Linked DNA regions of Homo sapiens. The protein of the gene in region 6 purifies or fractionates together with the protein of the main gene of each other region. This does not show direct contact. Each region holds a gene or a part of one and is shown on either strand. Other genes may lie near its edges.

Region 1 (3,500 bases), about 31 Mb from region 6:
AAGCTGAGGTTCTGAGAGGAGCTAAACATCAGGCTGAATATTGCAGACTTCCTAGAGTCACACATTTAATGGAGAAATTTCTTGACAAAATCTAATTCAATTTAAACCCAAAGGAGGTAATATTAAAGCGTACACATCACCCCAAGGAGTGTTCGCATAAAGTGAGTTATTTAAAGCAAATCTTCAAATACTGTGCAGCATCTCAGCTCCCAATTTATACTGTTGCAACAGGAAAGCTCTGTGCCTTGAGATTCTGTATAAAGAAGGATGCCTAGGCCAGGACTTCTGGAACTCTGGGGTACAGAGTCACCTGAGCATCTTGTTAAAATGCAGATTGCAGCAGGGCACGGTGGCTCACGCCTGTAATCCCAGCACTTTGGGAGGCTGAGGTGGGCGGATCATGAAGTCAGGAGTTCGAGACCAGCCTGACCAACATGGTGAAACCCTGTCTCTACTAAAAATACAAAAAAATTAGCCTGGCGTGGTGGTGCGCGCCTGTAATCCCAGCTGCTCAGGAGGCTGAGGCAGGAGAATCGCTTGAACCCAGGAGGTGGAGGTTGCAGTGAGCCAAGATCGTGCCACTGCACTTCAGCCTGGGCGACAGAGTGAGACTCCATCTCAAAAAGAATAAATAAATAAATTGCAGATTGCGATTCTGATTCATGCTCCCAGGAATGCTGATGCCACGTGGCCCTGGGTCTTTCTTCAAGTAGCACAGTTATAGATACTCTAGGCCCCTACCCAGTTCTCTGAGGAAGCAACTTTAGCACCAGTTTTTAAGTTGCAGTCAGCTTCATACGTAGCGGTGCTTACCCACGCACAGAACTTGGAGAAAGCTAGAAGACCCACCACATCAAAACTGAGAAAAACCACCACCAAAACCAGCCAGCCCAGGATCAGGGAAGGAAGGTCTGATCCTTAATTTGGTCACCGTAGAGCAGGCGCAAGGAGGAACAGGCAACCCCAACTCAAAGAAGCTGGGGAGGGTGCAAAAGACTCCCCATGCCTAGGATGCAAGGGGATATTTAACTCCACCCTTGATCATTCTGCCCTGCACCCAAATGGTTCATTCACTTTTTAAATAAACCTATATGAGGACCTGTTATATCGGCTGGGTGCAGTGGCTCACGCCTGTAATCCCAGCACTTTGGGAGGCTGAAGTGGGCAGATCACCTGAGGTCAGGAGTTCGAGACCAGCCTGGCCAACATGGGGAAACCCCGTCTCTATTAAAAATACAAAAATTAGCTGGGTGCAGTGGCACACACCTGTAAACCCAGGTACTCAGGAGGCTGAGGTAGGAGAATCACTTGAACCTGGGAGGTAGAGGTTGCAGTGAACCAAGATCGTGCCAATGCCTCCAGCCTGGGAGACACAGGCAGACTCCATTTCAAAAAAAACAAAAACAAACAAACAACAAACAAAAAAACCACCTACATAAGAACCCATTATAAATAAGTACTGTACTAAACTCTATGGGAGAGCCCCTCAGTAAATTAAAACAAAACCCAATAGGGGCAAAAATATGGATGGTGTCGCAAGAATGACAGTCCAGAAGTTCTACAGTGTCTACCTTCTGGCAGGAGAGATAGGACAGCTTCAGGGAAGAAGAGGCGGTGGGGCTGGGCAACAGAGAGACAGGAGAAGGCAATGTACAACCGGGGACTGGCCCGAAGGAAAGAAAGGTGGGAGAAAACCAGATATGTGTTAGGAGATGGCAAATATTCCAGCTGGACTGGAATGGAGGGTCCCAGTAGGTAAAATGTCTATTGTTGGGAATGACTGTAAAGCTGAAGGAATCTTTGAAGCACACCACAGAGGGAAGACCAAGAAAGGGCTGTGTGTGTGTGTGTGTGTGTGTATTTTTTTTTTTTGAGACGGAGTCTCGTTCCGTCGCCCAGGCTGGAGTGCAGCGGCGCGATCTCGGCTCACTGCAACCTCCACCTCCCGGGTTCAAGTGATTCTCCTGCCTCAGCCTCCTGAGTAGATGGGATTAGAGGTGTGTGCCACCACACCCAGCTAATTTTTGTATTCTTAGTAGAGACGGGGCTTCACCATGTTGTCCAGGCTGGTCTTGAACTCCTGACCTCAGGTGATCCGCCTGCCTTGGCCTCCCAAAGTGCTGGGATTACAGATGTGAGCCACTGCACCCGGCCTACTTCATTATACTTAATCCTCAGCACAACTCTAGGATGTCCCTTTATAGAAGAGGCTGAGAAGCTAAGAGGTTCATCCAGGGCCACAGGGCCTGCCAATGAGTCTGAGTTGCTGCTTTGCCAGATATACTCCTTATCCCTGGGCTCCACATCCCTCAACAGAGGATCAAAAACACTGGGGGAAGATAAAAATTAAAAACAATACAACAATAAAAAAGAATACAAATTAAAGAATACAACAGTTATTTACATAGCATTTCCATTGTAATAGGTATTACAAGTAATTTACAGATTTTTTTGTTTTTTTTGAGACAGAGTCTCGCTCTGACACCCAGGCTGGAGTGCAGTGGTGCAATCTCGGCTCACTGCAAGCTCTGCCTCCCGGGTTCACGCCATTCTCCTGCCTCAGCCTCCCAAGTAGCTGGGACTACAGGCGCCTGCCACCACGCCTGGCTAATTTTTTGTATTTTTAGTAGAGATGGGGTTTCACCATGTTAGCCAGGATGGTCTCGCTCTCCTAACCTCATGATCCGCCCACCTCAGCCTCCCAAAGTGCTGGGATTACAGGCGTGAGCCACTGCATCCTGCCCTTTTTTTTTTTTTTTTTTTTGAACTCTGTCACCCAGACCGAAGTGCAGTGACACAATCATGGCTTACTGTAGCCTCAACCTGCTGGGCTCAGGCAATACTCCCACCTCAGTCTCCTGGGCAGCTGGGACCACAGGCACGTGCCACCATGCCTGGCAATTTTTTTTTTTTTTTTGTACAGGTGGAGGTCTCATTGTGTTGCCAAGGCTGGTCTTGAGCCCCTGGGCTCAAGCGATCCTCCTCCCTCTGCCTCCCAAAGTGGTGGGATAACAGGCGTAAACCTGGCCCTTAGAGATGATTTAAAGTATACAGGAGAAGCTGGGCATAGTGGATCATGCCTGTAATCCTCATACTTTAGAGCACTGAGGCAGGAAGACTGCTTGAGCCCAGGAATTTGAGGCTTCAGTGAGCCAAGATTGTGCCACTGCACTCTAGCCTGGGTGATAGAGGAGACCCTGTCTCATAACAAAACAAAACAAAAGTATACAGGGAAGTTGTGTGTACGTTATATGTAAATACGACACCATTTTATATAAGAGACTTGAGCACCCTTGGATTTTTTTTTTTTTTTGAGACGGAGTCTCGCTCTGTCACCCAAGCTGGAGTGCAGTGGCACGATCTCGGCACGATCTCGCCCAAGCTGGAGTGCAGTGGCACGATCACTGCAAGCTCCACCTCCCGGGTTCAGGCCATTCTCCTGTCTCAGCCTCCCGAGTAGCTGGGACTACGGGCACCCGCCACCACGCCTGGCTAATTTT
Region 2 (3,500 bases), on a different chromosome or scaffold from region 6:
ATGGCTCCGTACATCAGGCAGGTGTCAGCAAAGGCTCCAGAGGCTTCTGATGCTACAAAGCACCCAAGACTAGGGCTTCAACTCCACTAACCCAGGCTCCCTCTGGCTACCCATAATCCCCCACCCTCTGAGGAGAGCTCTCTACCTTTTTCTTCCTACACATCTTCCTATATATAACCCCTTCCACATCAGTCTCTGTCTTCCTTAACCCGTCACCCAAAAGGGTCTGACTACTGCCTCCTTCGCCAGGACTTCGTGGTGCTCCACCAGATTCTAATTCACCATCAAGACTTTCATTCTGACCACTTTTCCCTAACAGCCTGCATTAGCTCTACCGCTTCTCCCCACCCCACAAAGACTCCGAAGTGAGGACTGCACCAGTCCTGAAACACGTCAAACTCAGCCTTCCAGGGACAGGCTCACCAAGAGTCTAGAGTGAAAGGAAGAGGGAGGGGACAGAGAAAAGGTACCGATGTGAAAACAGGGTAGCTCCTGCCCTCAATATCATGGGGAAAGAAGACAGCCTCCATTCAATATTTTAATAAGAAATAATACATGTTACCCAATGACAAGCCAATGTGCAAAGCAAGTAACATGCCAAGTCTTCCAGGGGATAAGGACCACTAGAGGCCACCAAGGCAGTGATTCTCAAACTCATTCTGACAGCAGAACTCAGGGAGGTGTGATATTCTATGAGGGACTGCTTGAAATGTTACCCCAGGAAAAGGAAATAAGCAAATACTCTTGGCTGTCACATAGATGACACTTCATACTAAATTCCTGAATGGCTAAGTACAGTGGATGCCAAATATTAAGGTAAAAATTATGAAAGAAAACCTTACTGCTGAGAAAATTCTATCCAGTTAACCAAGTCTGCTCAGCACCTTGGAGAGGGGGGCCAGCCATCATTCAATGTCAGAACCCACACACATTACGCAGCTCCCAGAATACCAGGCTCTCGGGGAGCACAGTACGTGAGCCTCTGCCCAGAACCAGTCTTGAACAAGTAGGATGGGGTTTCCAAAAGAGAATAGGCAGGAGCGGAGGAACAGCATGTATGATGGATGGTGTATGGGAGGAAAAACATAAACCAGCAAAGAGACAGGCAGACCCATGAGAGTGCATCTCCATGCCCCACCCAGCACCAGCACCATCATGGACCACTCAGACCTCTGCTGCCTACAGCCCTGGAACTAACCACTCACCCAAGGTCAGGGTCCAAATCAAGCCACCAAAACTGTGGCTTCCATTAATTATATCACCTGGAGAACCTACTGAGGACAGCTGAGTGTTAAAGAAATGCAATCCCAGTAACTAACTTAGAGTGTACCACAGCAAAGGAGATGGCACTTTAACAGGAACATCTGGGCCAGCGCATTAGCAGCAGCATGACAAACATGATGCCATCAAAGCAGACACAACTGCTATAAACCTTCACTATAAAATCACCCTTCAACTTCTATAAAAAGAGCGCATGTGTACTGGGCACAATGACAACTCAACCCCCCAAAGTACAGACAAACGGCTTTAAACAGCAGCAGCTGGAGGCCATGGCATCTTGTCACTCCACTCATGAGCCGCAGGCCTGTGGGGACCCAGCAAATGGGCTCCCTAAATGTCTGGTCCCAGGGGGAAAGAAAGCCCTGCTGAGTTGCTGAACAGCCCCAGGGAAGAGCTTTTCCTCACTGCCCAGCCTCCTTCCTGAGAGGCCTCCAAAGCAGCCGACTGGTAGTGAACCTGAGGCAGGGGTGAAACAGAGATGCTGCAGACACCGCCTCCAGGCGAGGCCTGCCGGGCAATCCAAACTCAGCTCCTGGCACAGCATCGGCCCTGTACCAACCCGCAGGGGAGAGCCAGGCAGAGCTGGAATCCAGTAACTGAATCATCCTCCCATGAAAAACTCCAGCTCCCCAAAAGCTCATGCAGGGGCGGCCACCGCCACCTGCTCCCCCAACGCCCTCCCCGGGATATTGCTGGGTCCCCACCTCCATGCAGGCCGCAGCGTGGTGCCCAGGCAGGGCAGGTGAGGCAGTCCAGGGGCACACAGCCACCTTACCTCCGAAGTTGGCCAGCCGGCCAATCCTCGTCACAGGCACCTTCCGCTCCCGGGCATGCTCGCTGAGCTGGAGGGAGACGAGAAAGAGACCTGTGGAATCAGCCAAGGGGACAGGACCAACCTTCAGAGGCTCCTGTTGCCCCCACATCTCCTCTCCACCCCACAGTCAGCAGCTCCGCCTGACAGCACACTCCACCAAGAGAAGGCCACCACGCTCCTAAAAACCCCAGACCACAGCACCCAGGAAAAGTCCCTAGAGCAGAGCCCAAGGCCATCACTGCTGTGGGTGGCAGCTACCTCGGCCCTCCAGGGGCCTCCCATACGCACCGTCTGTTTGTGCTGCTTGTTCTCGGGGCGAGCCTTAGCCTGCCGGGCCTTCTCAATGTCCTCGGCTGTGAGGCCCCCAACAGGGGATTGGTCCTGGTGGAAGAACCTTCGCTGAAAGCCCATGGCAGAGAATGAGTCTCTGGGGTTTGCAAAGAGCCTCCCGTTGGCCCTGCCCAGAGGGGAGGAGGCCTGGCCGGGGAACCCGGCTTCTCTAAAGGGTCCACTGGCCACGTAGGCAGGAGCTGGGCCCTCGCTGTGGGCATGACCCAGGGATGGGGGCGCTGACTGGTCGGGAGCGGAGGCTGAAGAGAAGTCTGTGGAGGCTCCGGCTGCATGCGGGACTGAGAAGTGGAACTCCCCTTCTGGGCCGCCGAAGTTCTCAGCAAAATATTCTTCATGTTTATCCTGACCCTGCAGGGAGCAAAGGCCAGCATTAGGAGAGCAAGAGCGAGCCAGGAGCTCCTCCCTGCCTGTCCCCTGCTGCCCAGGACAGCACACCACCAGCATCCCGCCCCCTCCCACCTCCAGAGGTGGCACAGTGCTGCACCTGAGGCCCGGCACCCTTCCCAGCCTGGGAGCCGGGACCTGGGCTCCAGCCCTGCTTCTGTTGGGGCTCTGCTGTGTGGTCCTAGGTGGGACACTGAGCACCTACTGTGTGCCCAGCCGGGGCCAGGCCAAGTGCACACTACGCCCGCAGCGGGTTCCTCACCTATAAAACAGGGCCAAGAAGGCCTCCAGGGCTTTGGAGATGGTAAACCAGGGCGCAAAAGACAGGGAAAGCTCTGAGAGGTGAACACACAGCCTAAGGCCAGCAAGGGGTGAGGGAAGCACACCGACGGGCCCACCTAAGCCCACAGCTTACTGCAGACATGGATGCCACCCACCAGCCGGGGTATGCATGTAAGAGATCCTCACTGGAGAGGTGGTTACAACCAGGACCAGGCCTGGCCGTCCCTAAGAGCTCAGGGTACAGGGAAATGGAGGGGCAGGGGAGAGGATACGCCATGTTTTCTTTGTGATGGTCACCAAGGCCTGAGCTTCGGGCCCAGGTCCTTTCTGCTTCTGAACCAGGAGTGACCTTGAGTGAGCTCCTGACCCTTCTCTGCTACTTCCTCAT
Region 3 (4,268 bases), on a different chromosome or scaffold from region 6:
GCCTGGGAGGGAGGATTGCCTGAGGCCAAGAGTTCAAGACCAGCCTGGGCAGCATATTGAGACCCTGTCTCTACAAGAAATTTTAAAAATTAGCTGGATATGGCGATGCATGCCTGTAGTCTCAGTTACTCTGGAGCCTGAGGTGGGAGGATTGCTTGAGCCCAGGAATTTGAGGTTGCAGTCAATTATGATTGCACCAATGTACTGGGTGACAAAGCAAGACCCTGTCTCAAAAAAAAAAGTATGGTCTTTGAAAAGTCACATTAGCATCACCTGGGTACTCGTTAAAAATGCAAATGTTTGGGTCCCACCTCAGACCCACTGAACCAGAAACTCTGAGGTTGGGACCTGGAGATCTATGGTGCCCCCGGGTGATCCTGGTGGGCTGCACTGCAAGGACACCTGGCCTGGCTCCTGCAAGGCAAGGCATCCCTCTCTGCTTTTCTTTCTTTCTTTCTTTCTTTTAAAGACAGAGTCTCACTCTGTCACCCAGGCTGGAGTGCAATGGCTGGATCTCAGATCACTACAATCTCCACCTCCCGGGTTCAAGCAATTCTCTTGCCTCAGCCTCCCGAGTAGCTGGGATTACGGGCGTCCGCCACCACACCCGGCTAATTTTTGTATTTTTAGTAGAGACGGGGTTTCTCCATGTTGGCCAGGCTGGTCTCCAACGCCTGATCTCAAAAGATCCGCCCGCCTTGGCCTCCCAACGAGCCGGGATTACAGGCGTGAGCCACCGCCCCCGGCTGTCAGTGTGTCTTGAGGTCTTTCCCTAATCCCAGATGGCACAAGTTTTCCCTCTTGCAGGCAGAGAAAGGAGCCTTGGGAAGGAGCCCCTCTGGCCTGAAAGATCAAGCCTATTGCTGGGCATGGCCAGGTAAGGAAACTCCAACCGTGGAAAGGACATTCCAGGGAGGTGGTGCTGAGATAAGGGGGGCAGAAAGAGACAGGTTTGGGGGGCCAGTGGCTCTGGAATGAAGCGCTACACTCAAGGCTAGGAATAGTTACTGAATGCACATACACACATACCATTCTCACAGCCCAGGTGCTGCGTCTTAGAGCGTGTGAGTGTGTATGTGTGTGTCTGTGTGTGCGCGCGCACGCACGTCTCTATCTCTGTTTCTGTCTTTCTCTGACTTGTCCTTATCTCTTGTCTCTCCATCACTCTCTGTGTCTCGCTGTCTCTGTGCATTTCCATGTCTCGAATATGTGTGTGTTTCAATCTGTCTCTCTGCCTCTTTCCATTTTCTCCTCTCTATCCATCAATCTAAGCCTGCCCATCTTTTTGTCTGCCTTTCTGTATCTCCGTTCTTCTCTGTCTCTCTGTCTCAGTCTCTCTGTATCCAGGGATTCTCTTTCCCAGCAGCGCCAGTGCGACTCCATGGGAGGTGGGGCCGGGGCGCGTCTTTGAGAGAAGGGGCGGGTGCCTACGCCTTTAAGCGCGGGTGCGCGCGGAGCCTGCGCCTTTAAGCGCCGGTGCGCGCGCTGCCCTGGGTTGCCGGCGAGGAGGCCGCGGGAGCGCCTGGACCCGGCCCGCCCAGCCCGGCCCCCGCCCGGCCCCCGCCTCGGCCCCGGCGGGGGAGGGGTCTCTGAGCGCGGCCCCTCCCCCCTGCGCCCCCGCCTGCGCTGCGGTGCCCCCATCCCGCGTGTCCCAGTCTGTCTGACCGTCCCTCCGCTCCCAGGCCTCGCCCCACCCGGCCCTGGGGCTGCCCGGTCGCCCCCCTCCCCACCGCAGCCGGTCCCCTCCCTCCCAGTCAGCCTCCGCCGCAGCCCAGGAAGCCAGCCGGGACGCCGCCGCCCCGGACCCCGCGCCCTAACCTCCACCTCGGGGGCCTGCACCCCCAGATTGAATCGGGAATTCCGGAAACCCGAGCCTGGAACCCTGATCTGGGACCAGCACCCCGAGATCCGGCCGTGGAACCCCAAGATCTGGAGCCTGAACCCCAGTATATGGGGCTGGAATCTCAACATCGGTCACTGGGACCTCAATATTTGGAGCCGGAACCCCACAATTTGGAACACAGACCCCAATATTTGGAGCAGAACCCCAAGATTTGACATCTAAAACCTCAAGCCTGGAGCTGAACTCTGAATTCTGGGCCTGGGACCTTGAAATCTGGGACTGGATTTCCAGTACTGTACCCTGGAACCCACTCTTGGGGACCTGAACCCTGGGATTCAGGCCTCAAATTCCAAGATCTGGACTGTGGGATTCCAAGGGGCCTGAACCCGAGTTTGGGCCTGAAGTCCTTGCTGCAGACCTGAGTGCTTAAATCTGGGGCTTGAGACCTCCCAATCTTGACTCAGCACCCCAATATCTGAATGCAGAACCCCGGGATCGGATCTCAGACTCTAAACCCCACCGTTTGGCTGCTTAGCATCCCAAGACTGGACCTGGGAGACCCTGACCCTGAACAACCCAAACTGGACCCGTAAAACTGGACCCTAGAGGCCCAATATTTAGGGGTCTGGAACCCCGAGTATTAAGGTCTGGAGACTCCGTTGCCACAGATTTGAGCCGAGTCAGGACACAGTCCCTCTACAGAAGCCTTGGGGACAGGAAAAGCATGACCAGATGCTCCCTCCAGAGCCCTGACCTCTGACTCCCCTGGAGCTAGGACTCTGCTCCCTGGGGCTGCTTCTAGCTCAGGTAAGGCTGCTGAAACCTCAAGGTGGGGACGGGCTGGGAGGAGCATTGTGGCTGCGGGTTACGGTACCAGGTACCCTTTGACACTCTTGGGGTTTCTCCAGAAAAAAAGACATTCCCCCATGGGTCTGCCTTCAGCTCCTGCTCTGCTCCAAACACTCTCTGGACACTGGCCATCCTTGCCCCTCTCTGACCTTCCCTGCCTCAGTTGATGGGACCTCCAGGTCTCTGACCCCTGCAACCCTTACAGCCTTTCGCTGTCTATCCGGTCCGACCGTCTCCGCCACCTCTCTTGTCCACCACTCCTCTCTCTGGGCTCCTTTCTCCACCTGTCCTCTCAATGGCCATCTCTGTTCCCTTTTTCTCTCTCTGATCATCTTTGTGACACCCCTGTCCACAGGTCCTCTCTCCAGTCGCCTCTGCCTGCTGCTTCTCAGTGACCATCGCTGACATCTGTGTCCACTGTGCCTCTCTCTAATCATCATTCACCAGCTCTCTTGCTCCTTCTCCACCCCTGAATCTAAGCCTAGGTCTGTGACCGTCCCCATCCATCTTTGACATTGCTGTCCACCACTCTTCTCTCCAGCAGCCTCTGTCCATCTCTCCTCTCTAGCTTCCTCTGGCCACCTTTCCCTTTCTCTGGCCATCTCTCCCACTGCTCTTGCCCTCCTCCCACCCCTGACCCTAACTCCCAGTCTGCAACTGTCTGACCATCTCTGGCCACCTCTCCTCTCTCTCTCACTCACTGATGCCCTCTGATCATCTCTGGCCACCTCTTCTCTCTCTCTCACTCATTGATGCCCTCTTGATCATCTCTGGCCACCTCTTCTCTCTTTCTCACTCACTGATGCCCTCTTGATCATCTCTGCCCACCTCTTTTCTCTCGCTCGCTGATGCCCTCTGATCATCTCTGGCCACCTCTTCTCTCTCTCTCACTCACTGATGCCCTCTGATAATCTCTGGCCACCTCTCCTCTCTCACTTGCTGATGCCCTCTGATCATCTCGAACATCTCTGCTGCCTTTCCTCTCTCCGATGACCTCTCCCCGCACCATCCTCCTGAGCAGCTGTCCTGGGCTCCCACTGACTCTGCCATGTCTGTCCTTTTCCTCCTCTCTGACCACCTTGCTGGCTTTGGGCCGTTTCTGACCACGTGTCTCTGACATGGTCATCTCCCCCAGATCTGAGCCCAACCCATGCCCTCCCTTCTCTTTGTCCACTGCTCATCTTCCTGACCATCTGTAACCCCTTCTCTTCTCTGGTCATATCTGACCACTTCTGATCATTGTTGCCACCCTGGCTGCCCCGTCTCCCCATGGCCAGCTTTTACCATCTCTGACCACGTCTAAAGCCCTCTGGTTTTCCTGCCACTCACCCAGACCAGCTGTCATTTCTCTGACCATTTCTTTACTTTTTTCTTTTGGAGAGACAGAGTCACGCTCTGTTGCCCAGGCTGGAGTGTGGTGGCGCAATCATAGCTCACTGCAGCCTCAAATTCTTGGGCTCAAATTGATCCTCCCACCTCAGTGTCCCATGTAGCTAGGACCACAGGTGGGCGCCACCATGCCTAGCTAATTTTTAAAAATTTTTGTATAATAGATACACGGTCTCACTTTGTTGCC
Region 4 (3,500 bases), on a different chromosome or scaffold from region 6:
CACATTTACATGTTCACATCTCCTTTCCTACAACCCTTTTTCTTTTTCAGAAAAGTGAAACTTTTTTCTAATTCATATTTCAACAGTCCTCCTTCCAGTGCTGTTTCTCTATAGAGTGACTGTCATTTGCCCCTCCTTTCCTGTGCTCTAGAGCTTATGATACATGGCTTTAGTATAAACATCCCTCATACATCACTGGCTGGTGCTCCACATATCTTTATTCCTCCTTGCCAAAAGCAGCAGGCGATGACAAGGATCAAAGAAGCATCCTCCTTCTTGCCAAAAAAAAAAAAATCTTCCTTTGGGTGGAAGTGGCTGTGGTGAGTGTTGTTGACCCAATAACGGACCAAATAAAATGCCAGTAACTTCTTAGCAGTGTTATCAGATGTTCTTTTTTATTGTATATATATAATTCTCCAACTGTGTAGTTCTTTCAAGTGTAATTTTTTTTCTTTTTCTTTTTTTTTTTTTTTGAGATGGAGTCTTGCTCTGTCGCCCAGGCTGGAGTACAATGGCATAATCTCGGCTCACTGCAACCTCCACCTTCGGGGTTCAAGCAATTCTCCTGCCTTAGCCTCCCGAGTAGCTGGGATTACAGCCACACACCGCCATGCCTGGCTAATTTTTGTATGTTTAGTAGAGATGGGGTTTCACCATGTTGCCCAGGCTGCTCTCGAACTCCTGACCTCGTGATCTACCCCCCTTGGCCTCCCAAAGTGCTGGGATTACAGGCGTGAGCCACTGCGCCTGGCCTCAAGTATAATTTTATCTGTGTATCCACGTTTATAGGGAGAGAACAAAAGTATAGAGGGAGTAGTGACTTTGCCAGCAAGCATCTTCTTCCCCATTGGGAGTAATTCCATTTTTGTTTTTTGGTTTTGTTTTGTTTTTACTAGTTCCTGTATGCCCACATTGCCAACTTCTGTCATTACTGCCTACTACAAAGACAGTATTTACTTCCATCTCTTTTCATTCCCAAATTTAGGGTCTGAATTGTTGCTTGTATAGATTATTACTTCCACTGTCTACCTATATGGGTGACCTAGAACTCTTTCTTAATAGAAAATAAATGTACAATATCTGAATCTCTGAATATAACCTTTCTTGTCTTTTAGTTCTCATGCTGGCACTATACTTTTCTTTGACCTCATAAAAACATTCAAAATTTTTTATTCACCCTCCCACCTCCTACCTCAGGCTATTAGTCTTTCCTGTCCACCTTCCCAAACTAACCATGATCCCATTTTGATCACTTGAATTCTTTCCTCTATATCATGATTTCTTCACGTAGGTATTATGAGAGTCATCTGGCTAGATGTGGAGATGTATATTTCTGGGCTTAAACTACTCCCCTTTTAAAAATCTTTATAACATTTCAACAATATACATAGGAAAGAATAAATAATGAGCCCTGAATTCCCTTCTCCACTCATTGCCAAGATTCAATTACTACAGACTAATTTTATTTATCCTCAACATCTCCTTTCATTCCTGTATTATTTTGAGGCAAAAACTAGGTATTATATCATTTTATCAGTAAGTATTTTAGAATGTATTTTTAGGAGATAAGAGCTCTTTAAAAATATATTTCCCTAATATAATTGTTATATTAGCTGTAATTCCTTAAAGTCATCAAATATCATGTCACTGTTTTTAAAACAGCTTTATTGAGATGTAATTTATACCATACAACTCACTCATTTAAATTATACAATTAACAGGGTTTTTGTTTATTCATAGAGTTGTGCATTTATCACCACAGTTTAAGAGCCACGTACCTTTTAGTGATCACCCCAAATCCCCTGTTCCCTCCCCAGCCCTATGCAACCACTAATCTGCTAATCCACTTTCTGACTGTTTAGTAATTTTTGAATCATACAACGTATAGTTTTGTGTGACTGGCTTCTTTAACATGTTTTCAGAGTTGATCTGTGTTACAGCATATATCAGCCCTTTATTCCTTTTTATTACCAAATAATATTCTGTTGTGTAGATATACCACACTTTGTTTATCCATTCATCAGTTGATGGACATTTGGGTTGTTTATATTTCTTAAGCTATTAAAAATAATACTGCTGCAAACATTCACATACACTTTTTTTGTGGTTATCTGGTTTCATTTGTCTTGGTTGTATACCTTGGAGTGTAACTTAAGTAATAAATATATATTATACTATACTGTATATATATAGATGTATATATACATATATAATATAAATTATATATATTATATATAATATGCTGTGTACTATAATATATTTTGAAAAATTGCTCAAGTTCATTATTAAAAAGAGATTTAGGAATGACAGTTCCTGCAATATATGTGACTTAGGAAGACAGCTTACCTATTGTGCTTTTGATGTCTTGGATAGTTTGAATGCCTATCAGTTTTGTGGAAGTATTTTCTTCATTTAAGAACACTTCGTATGTCCTTACAAGCAGTACATATTAGTTATCCTTTGGTTTTTAGTGTTCTTTGACAGTAAATTTGATTCCTGATTTCTTTTTAAGGAAAAATAGCACAAATACAAATAGAGTCTAAAAGCATTACTATAAAAAAAAAAAAGCCGGAAGATAACTTACGAATGCCATGTTGCATTTCTGCCACTTTCCTCTCCTAAAGTTGGTTCCTGCTGCCTATCATGCTATTAATTTTTTAATCTCAGTTCTTCATAGAATGTACAGAATTCCTTATTGACACTCTTGGTGTTATTGTGACATATAGCTATTCAATATTGTCAGTTTTTTTAAACAGTCATGTTGGGTCTTGGAATGTTACAGATTAGCTGAGAGTAACATGGTGGGAAAAAGGCATGACATCACCAAGCCAGCAAATGCCTGGAGGTGGATTATTTAGTTTGCATAAAATGTTTTAAATGTTTAATTATGTATTGTAGACTAAACATTACTAATTATAGGTGATAGTTTACTTATACCTCTAACATTGGTACAGTGTTTTTGTTTTTTTAAAAACATTCATCTTCCTTATAGAGATTTCTGTTTGTTTTTAAGGATATTTTGGAACTCTTAGAAAAAAGAGTGAAGTCAAGATTTTCTCACCGGCAGATACACTTAATGAATTCATTTGGTTTTCCACAGTATGTTAAAATATTTAAAGAACAGTTATCTCTACCTGCAGAGTTTCCAGACAAGGTTTTTGCTGAGAAGTGGAATGAAAATGTTCAGGTATCTTAAAAGGCAATAAAGCTAAATGTTCCTTGCTATATGATTTAAAGCAATTAAAACACAAATTTTAGAAATTAGTAAATTAACACAAAGTTTCTAATATTGCTGAAGGATAATGCTGCAGTAATACAAATTATATACTTTTTAAAAATTTTCTTCTTAGACAGTTGAAATGTCATTTCTCCTAAATTCTATCTCAAAAGAACATCACAGTTAAGCTTTAGGATTTATGTTATTAGTTTGAAGTAAACTTTAATGAGGCTTTAGTTTTATCTGTATGTGGTTTATATTTTAGATAATTTTATTTTATATA
Region 5 (3,500 bases), about 30 Mb from region 6:
GCCTGACCAACATGGTGAAACACCATCTCTACTAAAATACAAAAATTAGACGGGCATGGTGGCAGGCACCGGTAATCTCAGCTACCCGGGAGGCTGAGGCAGGAGAATCGCTTGAACCCAGGAGGCGGAGGTTGCAGTGAGCCGAGATTGTGCCACTGCACTCCAGCATGGGTGACAGAGTGAGACTCCCTCTCCAAAAAAAAAAAAAAAATTAGTATTTTCCTAAAGAACTTCTGAAAATAAAATTAAGAATAACACCTAGGGCTGGGCTCGGTGGCTCACACCTATAATCTCAGCACTTTGGGAGAGCAAGGTGGGTAGACCACCTGAGGTCAGGAGTTTGAGACTAGCCTTGCTAACACAGCGAAACTCCATCTCTACTAAAAATACAAAAATTAGCCAGGTGTGGTGGCACATGCCTGTAATCCCAGGAGGTGGAGGCTGCAGTAAGCCGAGATCCCTATCTTTTTTTTTTTTTTTTTTTTTTTTTTTAAAAAAGGCCAGGTGCCGTGGCTCACACCTATAATCCCAGCACTTTGGGAGGCGGGCGGATCATGAGGTCAGGAGATCAAGACCTTCCTGGCTAACATAGTGAAACCCCGTCTCTACTAGAAATACAAAAAATCAGCCGGGCCTGGTGGCGGGCGCCTGTAGTCCCAGCTACTTGGGAGGTTGAGGCAGGAGAATCGCTTGAACCTGGGAGGCAGAGGTTGCAGTGAGCCGGGATCACACCACTGCACTCCAGCCTAGGTGACAGAGCGAGCCTCCGTCTCAAAAAAAAAAAAAAAAAAAAAAGAAAGAAAATGAGCTCCAGTTTTTCTGTCATTTCCTAGTTTTTTATTTTTTTGCTTATAAAATAGGATTTCATTTTGCTGACCTAGACACCCTAGTTCCTTACTGTAAGATTAATCAAAAACACTCATATTGGAAAATAGAAATGTTATAGGTAGGGGTATCCCTTACCACTTGCTGATACTTGTTTACATTTTCTTGAAGTGTGTTAAGCAGAAAACTGAAGATCCTTTCCATGTTCTGGGTTAATGTTTGCTGGATGTCCCTTCTTCTTTGAGGGGGAAGTGTCTGAAAAGTCACTACATCCTCTGCCAGTCGCAAAAGGATAAACATCACCAATTCTGTCTGTGTTTCCTACACCAATAGAAATAAGCTAGTTAAAAACTAAAATATCTTTTCATTTTATGTATATCCAAAGGCTATTTTCTGTTGCCAAAAAAAAAAACCCACAAACAAAATCAAACAACAAACCCTGAAGTTTGTTCCAAGGAAAAGTATACCAAACTGATATAGCTGTGTTTCATACCCCTTGTTTGGAAAGAGTGTCCAATTCTATTAGCATGTCAGGCCAATGCTGTGGCCACTCTCGCTTGATCATTTCCACTACAATTCGAGACAGAGCATCTTTAATATGGTTCTCCTCTTCCAAAATGTTCAATGTTCCCTGAAAAAGAACAAGAGATATTAAGAGATATGCAAGACTGGATTCCAGACTTCCAGAAAAAAGCTGGGCTGTAGAGTTGTAAAAAATTTATCAGCAGGCCTACTTTTAAACCAAACAGAACAAATGAACCTGTTCTTCAGCCTGAGTCACTTGTCCTGCATTCTTGCTAATCACTCTTCCGCTTAAAGCTTAAGTGAGGGTTGCATCACCTAAAAGGCTGTCATATCGAGAGCTAGGATGACATCATTATTCTTTACAAAATGAAAAGATTCTCATATTGATTGTTTCAGTTTGCAGAAGGCCAGGGAGGAAGAGTATAGAAATAAGGAGTATAGTGAGTAGCTGGTAAAATGGAAGGGTATGAAGGGGCAAATGAATATTTTACCAATAGTTCTAACACTAGAAGACGCAGAAGTATTAGAAGATCCCATCTCTCATGTCTGTTATTTAAAAAAAACCAAGAAAGAAAAAAGGCTACAATTTTGAACATGTTTAAAGTCATATTCTGTTTTGTGTTTAAAGAGACAGTCATCCAGTCATCACACCTGTAATCTCAGCATTTTGGAAAGCCAAGGTGGGAGGATTGCTTGAGGCCAGGGGTTTGAGACCAGACTAGCCTGGGAAACACAGTGAGACCCTGTCTCTCTAAAAACCAAAAACAAAATTAGCTGGGCATGGTACCACATGCCTATAATCCCAGCTACTTGGGAGGCTAAGGCGAGAAGATCACTTGAGCCCAGGAGTTCGAGGCTGCAGTGAGCTATGATCATGCTAATGCAATCCAGCCGGAGCAACAGAGACTCTGTCTCAAAAAAAAAAAAAAGTCATATTCTAATACTTGAAACAAATTCATTCTGCATACTTAAAATTCTGCATGTTTTTCATCATTAGTATCACATAGTAGTTGTTTGGAATAAAAGAAAATAGTGTTTCAATCTAATTTAGATCTAAGAATCTTATTGATTTGTTGAAAATATTTAATCCCCTCTGCCCTGTCTTTATAATTTAAAAAATAGAAGTCAATACATAAGCATGATTAATTAAACCTAGTAAGAGACATATGCTGAATTATGCTTTCTGCTTTTGTTTTGTTTTGTTTTTGAGATAGGGTCTTGCTCTGTTGCACAGGCTGGAGTGCCATGGCACCATCACAGCTCACTGCAGCCTGGACCTCCTGGGCTCAGAAAATCCTCCCACCTCAGCCTCCTGAGTAGCTGGGCCACAGGCATGCGCCACCACGCTCAGCTAATTTTTGCATTTTTGGTAGAGATGGGGTCTCACTGCATTGCCCAAGCTGCTCTCGAATTCTTAGATGCAGGTGATCCTCTTACCTTGGCTTCCCAAAGCGCTAGAATTACAGGTGTGAGTCACTGTGCCTGGCCTAAATTATGATTTCTTGTGCTGTCTGACCTATTTAGAAGCAGTGAATTTTTACACAAACTCCCTATTGAAGAAGTCACGCTTTGCCTAAACTACCTTGGAAACATGTCTCCCAACCACCCATTCCTTACATTTGCAATCAGCTCCATGACACTGTTCTTCAGATACACCTTCTCCAATCGAGACATGCCGTTCCACCGAAACCTGACCACCAAAATGCATAAAGTCAATAGAACCACTTTAGAAGTCTTGTCTTTACAAGAGAATAGCATGGATTTCTACATTTGATTACACTGGAGATTTCATTAAGAAATTATACTTTTGATTTTGTACCTGTCAATGAATGGGCAAAAATGATCTACATTTAACCAAAATACTAACACAAAAATTCTTGGGAAAAGGTTTTATATATGCAGTGGTCCATTAACTGGAATCCGCACAAGATTTGTACCACACGTCAGCTTTGCCTCATGATTTTATTGATGGGCCAAAAGTGAATATACATCTAGGTCAACTGCAACAATGTACTTGCTTTTCAGAAAATGCAGTTTTGACATCAGTCATTTTCTGTGCTGGCTTACAAAACAATTCTGGAAAAACTATGGCTAAGTCTTAAAGGCTACCTCTTCTGATAGGTGTTGAGGGTAGGACAATCAAGTTAGGA
Region 6 (3,500 bases):
CTGGCCAGTTTCTTAGGACATTCTTTTCTGAATGTACACATGCCCAACCTAAGCCACATAAGTCATTTTGCCTGCCTTATGTTATAGTGGTATTAATAAATGTGTATTCATCATTTGTTTATAATTAAGTTATATATACTTCATTTTATGTTGCTTATCACACGAGGAGATAGTACAGAAAGAAAAGCTAGTATTCTTTTTAGAAGTACATTTGCAGGCTGGGTGCAGTGACTCATGCCTGTAATCCCAGCACTTTAGGAGGCTGAGGCAGGTGGATCACCTGAGGTGAGTAGTTCGAGACCAGCCTGGCCAACACGGTGAAACCCTGTCTTTACTAAAAATACAAAAATTAGCTGGGCGTGGTAGCACACACCTATAATCCCAGCTACTCAGGAGGCTGAGGCAGGAGAATTGCTTGAACCTGGGAGGTGGAGTTTGCAGTGAGCCGAGATCACGCCATTCCACTCCAGCCTGGGCAACAAGAGCAAGACTTCGTCTCAAAAAAATAAATAAATAAAAAATAATAAATTTTTGGCCGGGCGCGGTGGCTCACACCTGTAATCCCAGCACTTTGGGAGGCCGAGGCACATGGATCACGAGGTCAGGAGATCAAGACCATCCTGGCTAACATGGTGAAACCCCATCTCTACTGAAAATACAAAAAATTAGACGGGCGAGGTGGTGGGCGCCTGTGGTCCCAGCTACTCGGGAGGCTGAAGCGGGGGAATGGTGTGAACCCCAAGGGGTGGAGCCTGCAGTGAGCCGAGATCGCGCCACTGCACTCCAGCCTGGGCCACAGCGAGATTCCGTCTCAAAAAAAAAATTTAAAAATAAATAAATAAATAAATAAATAAATTTTCACCCATTTTCAGTGCTCACGAAGATACTAGTTCATACTTAGATGAATCTCCTCTATCATTCACAAGCAGAGCATTCAAGCAGGAAAGAGGGTTTCTCTCTAAACAAAATAAATCTCTCCGAAAATCTTTATATTTGACTTTAATAATGTTGCTGAGTAACATTTGGGTACACATCACTCACTTTCTCCACTCCAACCTGTGACCTTCAGGGACAATACTGCTGGAATGTACATGAAATCCTAGAATTCCACAGATAAACTGCAAATTGGTACCCTAAATAAGGAAAAGTAAGAGTTTGCTTTGTGTCTTTTTCTTTGCAAAGTGCTTTTGTTGACCCTGCTACTTATCTTCATCTGCCTTATATCAGCAGTAGAAAGAAATCCCGGAATGGTTCTTGACATGTTGGCTTTGTTATACAGCTACACTGCATTAAAAATGTCAGATACTCAGATCAGTCACTAAATCTTCATTAGTACCTTGCTGTGTGCTGTTACTAATGAAAACACAGGTTCTATTCACATGAAGTTTGTGGCTTGATTTAAATTCTTGCTCTTTGGAATTGTTCCATGTGCTTGTTTAAGTGCTTCGTCTGAAATGGGGAGATATTATTAATATCTACATTTATGCATGTTAATAGCCAGCACTAAGTGAACACTAACTGTACATCAAGCCTTATTTTATGTGCCTATTTCATTTCCTCTTCCCAGATCACACATTCGGTAAGTAATAGAGCTAGGATTAAAACCAAGCCTGGTTCCCAAAGCCTAGCTCAGCCACTACAGTTTTCTGCTTAATAGCTTTCTGGATTAAGCCTGTGACTCTTTTTTTGGGAGGGGGAGGCAGGGCCGGGGGGGCGGCAGCCTCCCGAGCCATAGTAGGCTCAGAGATACCCAAGCCTTTTTTGTGATTCTTTTGTGAGCCTTCTTGGTCATAGTTATTATAAAGCTTCTGGCAGCTCATCCTGCAGTCTAGTTTTATAAAATTGCAAGCCTTCTTGAAGTTTACGACTGTCAGTTCTTTTTCATTCACTTCTAAATACTGTATATCTATATTGTTATGACTCACCCACCTACTAGAAAGTTTGCATGTTCTTCAGTCCAAAATAGTGGTTCAAAATCTCATTTATATGTACTTACATGCCAGTAAGAGAAAAGAGCTGCTCTGTGAAGGTCTTAAAGGATTGTTTTATTCTTTTCTGATTTTTGTAGGGTAAGAAGTACCAATGGGATGCAGAAACTCAAGGATGGATTCTCGGTTCCTTTTTTTATGGCTACATCATCACACAGATTCCTGGAGGATATGTTGCCAGCAAAATAGGGGGGAAAATGCTGCTAGGATTTGGGATCCTTGGCACTGCTGTCCTCACCCTGTTCACTCCCATTGCTGCAGATTTAGGAGTTGGACCACTCATTGTACTCAGAGCACTAGAAGGACTAGGAGAGGTAATTTTCTTTTCTCTCTTGTTTTACTTCTTACCGTGTGTCTCCTTCTCTTCTTCTTAAAGATGTCATTCTTTGGTATGAATATGAACCAAAAAATAACGTTGGATGATAACAGGGGTTTATTTTTTAGAGAAAGGACTAACTAGAAAATTACCTGAATAGATTTTGTTTGTGGTAAATGAGGTCTCTAGTAGGAGCACCCCGAAATTGGAACCTTTACTCAAAAACCAGAGAAAACTTTTTTCCAAAAGAGACTTCATAGCTCATACTTTAGGAGAGAAGAAAATAAACCATTAATAAATGGTTAAGATAGTCCGGGCGTGGTGGCTCATGCCTGTAATCCCAGCATTTTGGGAGGCCAAGGTAGGTGGATCACTTGAGGTTAGGAGTTTGAGACCAGCCTGGCCAACAGGTGAAACCCCATCTCTACTAAAAATACAAAAATTAGCCGGGCATGGTGGTGCACACCTGTAATTGCAGCTACTCGGGAGGATGAAGTGGGAGAACTGCTTGAACCCGGGAGGCAGAGGTTGCAGTGAGCCAAGATCGCGCCACTGCACTCCAGCCTGGACGACAGCAAGTCTCCATCTCAAAAGAAAAAAAAATGGTTAAGATTGACCATCCTTACCTCTTGTGCTCTTGCCACCGTTAAACTCTGCTCTATCATTGATGCCCAAGTCTGAAGCACATTTTACACAATAGACTGTTGAGTTGCATTTAATTTCTTTTTTATCGCTTATTCTTTTATTTTTTCTGGTCTTGTAACTTAGAGACAAATATTTTATGATTTTATATAACTATCTCAATTTAGTTCTATGATTCTGCTCTTTTTAGAAGTATTATTGATTTTTGCCTCTTTTATTTCCCTCCTCTTAATAGTTTTATCATTTTTTAAAATTTTGATTCTTGTCTTTCTTTTCCTTCCCACTTTTCTTTTGTATTTCATCATGTGTACCCCCATACTTAATAATTTTCACTTTTCCTTTATAACTTCGAACTTCTACCTCTGAAATCCAGGGAATGGTGTATTTTGCTCTCTTGCATTTCTTTAATTCAAGCAAGATAATGGCCACTGGGCTTGGTGTAGAGGATGAAGATTATTTTAAGTAGCAGTGTATCATGCTGTTGGAATGAACACTGGACCAGAGTTTGAATAATAGCTCTATTGTATCTAACAGTGAAACCTTAGGTAAGCTCT
Region 7 (3,500 bases), on a different chromosome or scaffold from region 6:
AGCAGCATGCACTCGATTCGCAGCTGGTAGCTGGGGATGGCACAGACAGGGATCAGTGGCCTGCACCCCCCACCTGTCCCTGCCAGAGGGGCACTCAGCACAGGGCTCTGGCTTGGGTGGTGGGCAAAGGGAGGGGGTTTCCACCGCCTGCCCCATCCAACAGGCACCCTCCCGGGCCTGCGCAGAGCAGGATCCAATTCCTCCAGAGGCCTCCAGCCCCACACTTTGAGGGGAAGGACTGGGGGTGGGGCTCGAGTGATGTTTAGAAGCCCAACCGCTGCAATGCTGCTCCTGGAGCCCGGGGCAGCCATTGGCACAGCCTCTTCTCCTCCCTGGCTGGGCCCTGCTCCCTATTCCTGCTCTCCTCCCACCTGGGGCCCAGGCCCTGGGGTCTGAGGGCGGCCATGCTCACCAGGGAATGGCCAGCAGGAGGAGGTAGAAGTGGTCGGCGCTGGCCAGCTTGGCTCGCTCCTCTGTGAATGCCCGCAGGTTTTCAATCTGCCAGGAGGAGAACGGCATGTGGGATCCCCCCATGCCAGCTTCCCGCCCTCCCGGACTGCCCGCCGGGCTCAGCCCCTCCAGTGCCCATCATGGCTCCCTGTGGCTCACGGTTCAGGGCAGAGGTAGGGCTGGGATGCCTCCCTTCTCTGTCTCCCTGCTGGGAGCCCCCGGGACAGCCTCTCCCTTGGTTGGTGGCACTAACTGGGGGTGGGGTGTGGGGGTGGTCCTCTTACCTCGTGCTTCTCGGGAAGGAGCTTAAGGAGTTGTTTGAGAACCTCCACATCAAACTTGGTGGTATCTCCAGCCCGGATCATAGCAGCGACCTCCTCGTTGGAGCTGGAGCAGGGAGAGGACCGGGCAGGGGTGAGTGAATCATGAGTCACCCCCACCCAGCCTCTTTGGGACCCCACCTGGCAGGGTTTCCCCACGTAGTCATGGGGTGGCCAGGGCAGGGGGGACACAGAACAGTCGAGTTGTTGCCCACGGTCACGCGGTGAAGGGGACCCAGGCTGACTCCCACCCTCGCTACCCTCCATGGGCCCTGCTCAGGAGATGCAGGATGGGTCGGGTCCAGCCAGCTCCCTCGGGCCAGTGCTGGACACCCGCAGCAGGAAAGGACTCGGGGGCTGAGAGTCAGGGCCCACTGGTTTAGCCACTACTTGTCTGTGGCCTTGTGGGGGGAGGTCCCAGCGCTCTGTCCCTGGGAGCCTGGACAGCCCCTAGCTGGGGCAGCATGGGGCTATTACCCGCCTACAATCCTGCCTAGGGGATGCAGTGTGCACTTCCCATGGCGGCCTGCAGAGGGCACTGCTGGGCCCAAGTCAGAAGGCTCAGGTGGAGGCGAGGCTCCGTGGCCTGGGATGGGGGCTACCTCCCTCACTCACCACTTAAATTGCTTCAGGAAGATGTTGAGGTTCAGGCTCTTCTTGGCATCGAGGAAAGTGATCTAGAAAACCCCCCACCCAACAGGCTGGTACCGGAGGGTGGCCAGGCAGGCGGCCCCGGTCTGAGTCCCCTCCCCGTCCCCACCTCCTTGGGCTCCTTCCTGGCCCGGGGGGCCACCATGGTGGGCTCCTTGGGCTTGGCTGCAGGGAAGGAGAATAGTCGCTCGATGCTGGAGAAGTCGGGCTCCACAGCCTCGGCGTCGGGGCTGCTCAGGGACGCCCACATAGAGTTGTGCTCTGTCGGGTGGGGACACGGCCAGTGAGGCTCTCGCAGCCCCGGGGCCTGGCGATCCAGCAGGCAGGGGCTGGAGCCTCCCAGAGGGTCTAAAGGATGTCCTGCCTGGGGCCCAGTAGGTCCAGGTCCAGCGTACAGCAGGCACCCTACCTCCCTACCTGAGCACCTGTAGCAGGGCCCCAGGGCACCATGGCACCCCAGATGCACTGGCTCACGGGAGCATGTGGAGGGGGGTCCTCAGAGGTAGCCCCTGCCCTGCTCCTCCCCCGTCCCCACCTCAACCACAGGCGCCGAGCCCAGAGCAAGGGCCAGGCTGCCCTGGCCACGCACGGGCAGGACGCGCACACAAGTTCCATGTGCCACCTGCCCCTCTCCCCAGCAGAGACCAGCCCCCGTCCTAGGGGAAGCTTCCCTTGGGGGTCTGGGGACCCTCACCACGTGCCACGTTGGATGGCAGCTTCTGCCAGTTCAGCTTCTTCATGCGCAGTGTGGGTGGGTTCACCCGCCGATGGCTGGGGACCCATGCTGAGCCCAAGCCATGGTCCACCTGGGCCACGATGACCTCCTCCATGCCTCCCGCCACGGGGGGGCTGCAGGTGCAGGGCAGTAGTGGAGGTGGGGGTGGAGGAGGGCCCCAGCCCATACCAGGCAGCAGGGGTGGGGGTGGGGGCGGGCATCCCAAGCCCGGGAGTGGTGGAGGTGGTGGGGGCAGGAACTCACAGGAGCCTGGCAGGGGTGGTGGTAGAGGAGGTGCTGGGGGGGCCATGGCCCCCAGGCCTGGCAGGGGTGGGGGCGGGGGTGCTGTTGGGAGGGCCTTAGCCCCCACACTGGGCAGGGGGGGTGGTGGGGGAGGGGGAGGGGGCTCGGCACTGGAACCAGGGAGCAGGGGTGGGGGTGGGGGTGGGGGTGGGGTGGACGCCTGCTGCTCCAGGGCTCTGGGCTGCGAAACTTTCAGGATGCTCTCACTCTGGGCGTGGTCCACGGGCTCGCAGGCAGCAGCTGCTGCTGGCTGCTGGCCCTCCACGCTGGGCTTGGGGGTTGTAGTGTTTTGCGGGGAGCTGCCCCTCTGGCTCTGGTCTAGGTTGGCCTGGACGCTTTTATGGGCCTTGACCAGGGGGCTCGGTCTGGGTCGCCCCTTGACAGACAGGAGCCGCTCAACCACTTCCTCCAGGGTGCATTCCTGGGCTGCAGTAGGGGATGTCCAGGGTCAAGGGAGAAGGGAGCCGGAGAGGGAGGGATGGGGGCTTGAGGAAGAGGCAGGAAAAAGCGGCCACCTCCCCTGGGCAGAGGATGGGTTGGGGCCAAGGGCAGGCTCCCCCCCCCATGGTCTAAGACCTCAGTGTCTGCCCACCAGGCTGTGCCTACGCCCCTGCCCCGCCCCCTCACCATCGCTGGCCAGGAGCACGGCCCGGTTCACGAGGCTCTCCAGGGCCTCCCAGAGCAGCTGGCTGGAGCGGAGGGTGGGCTCCAGGTGCAGGAGGCCCTGCAGCACCGACAGGAGCTGGGCAGACACCGGGGAGCAGCTCACCTGGACGGGCGAGTGTGGGGTGCAGGTCAGCAGCCGGCCCCTCCCTGGTGGACTAAGGACTGTGGCCTGTCTGCCAGGGTGTCCAGCCCCATCACCCCCTCTATTCCCACGGATCCCTAGAGATGAGAGTTTCAGCGACTGTGGTACTGGTGACATGTGGGACTGTCCTGTGCATTATGGGATGTTAAACAGAACCACTGGTCTCTACCTACTCAATGCCAACAGCACCCCCTGCCCAGCCGTGGCAGCCAAAAATGTCTTCAGATGTTGCCAGATGCCACCTGGGGACACA

What was found.
Region 1: the proteins of SLC17A5 (region 6) and PTK7 purify together in Homo sapiens (affinity purification with mass spectrometry; one large-scale study listed by BioGRID and IntAct). This does not show direct contact.
Region 2: the proteins of SLC17A5 (region 6) and COQ8A purify together in Homo sapiens (affinity purification with mass spectrometry; one large-scale study listed by BioGRID and IntAct). This does not show direct contact.
Region 3: the proteins of SLC17A5 (region 6) and LRFN3 purify together in Homo sapiens (affinity purification with mass spectrometry; one large-scale study listed by BioGRID and IntAct). This does not show direct contact.
Region 4: the proteins of SLC17A5 (region 6) and ORC4 purify together in Homo sapiens (affinity purification with mass spectrometry; one large-scale study listed by BioGRID and IntAct). This does not show direct contact.
Region 5: the proteins of SLC17A5 (region 6) and XPO5 purify together in Homo sapiens (affinity purification with mass spectrometry; one large-scale study listed by BioGRID and IntAct). This does not show direct contact.
Region 7: the proteins of SLC17A5 (region 6) and INF2 purify together in Homo sapiens (affinity purification with mass spectrometry; one large-scale study listed by BioGRID and IntAct). This does not show direct contact.

Annotation. Positions count from the first base shown.
Region 1 is NC_000006.12:43,079,314-43,082,813, reverse strand, and holds part of PTK7 (inactive tyrosine-protein kinase 7 isoform a precursor), read right to left. Parts: intron 1-3,500. UniProt on the Homo sapiens protein: Inactive tyrosine kinase involved in Wnt signaling pathway. Component of both the non-canonical (also known as the Wnt/planar cell polarity signaling) and the canonical Wnt signaling pathway.
Region 2 is NC_000001.11:226,964,294-226,967,793, reverse strand, and holds part of COQ8A (atypical kinase COQ8A, mitochondrial), read right to left. Parts: intron 2,795-3,500; coding exon 2,384-2,794; intron 2,124-2,383; coding exon 2,057-2,123; intron 1-2,056. UniProt on the Homo sapiens protein: Atypical kinase involved in the biosynthesis of coenzyme Q, also named ubiquinone, an essential lipid-soluble electron transporter for aerobic cellular respiration.
Region 3 is NC_000019.10:35,934,906-35,939,173, forward strand, and holds the start of LRFN3 (leucine-rich repeat and fibronectin type-III domain-containing protein 3 precursor), read left to right. Parts: upstream 1-1,468; 5' UTR 1,469-2,650; intron 2,651-4,268. UniProt on the Homo sapiens protein: Cell adhesion molecule that mediates homophilic cell-cell adhesion in a Ca(2+)-independent manner. Promotes neurite outgrowth in hippocampal neurons.
Region 4 is NC_000002.12:147,947,738-147,951,237, reverse strand, and holds part of ORC4 (origin recognition complex subunit 4), read left to right. Parts: intron 1-3,013; coding exon 3,014-3,187; intron 3,188-3,500. UniProt on the Homo sapiens protein: Component of the origin recognition complex (ORC) that binds origins of replication. DNA-binding is ATP-dependent. The specific DNA sequences that define origins of replication have not been identified yet.
Region 5 is NC_000006.12:43,569,539-43,573,038, forward strand, and holds part of XPO5 (exportin-5), read right to left. Parts: intron 3,041-3,500; coding exon 2,968-3,040; intron 1,457-2,967; coding exon 1,319-1,456; intron 1,147-1,318; coding exon 964-1,146; intron 1-963. UniProt on the Homo sapiens protein: Mediates the nuclear export of proteins bearing a double-stranded RNA binding domain (dsRBD) and double-stranded RNAs (cargos). XPO5 in the nucleus binds cooperatively to the RNA and to the GTPase Ran in its active GTP-bound form.
Region 6 is NC_000006.12:73,640,493-73,643,992, reverse strand, and holds part of SLC17A5 (sialin), read left to right. Parts: intron 1-2,068; coding exon 2,069-2,302; intron 2,303-3,500. UniProt on the Homo sapiens protein: Multifunctional anion transporter that operates via two distinct transport mechanisms, namely proton-coupled anion cotransport and membrane potential-dependent anion transport.
Region 7 is NC_000014.9:104,706,618-104,710,117, reverse strand, and holds part of INF2 (inverted formin-2), read right to left. Parts: intron 3,209-3,500; coding exon 3,067-3,208; intron 2,866-3,066; coding exon 2,116-2,865; intron 1,683-2,115; coding exon 1,531-1,682; intron 1,448-1,530; coding exon 1,386-1,447; intron 838-1,385; coding exon 735-837; intron 499-734; coding exon 413-498; intron 31-412; coding exon 1-30.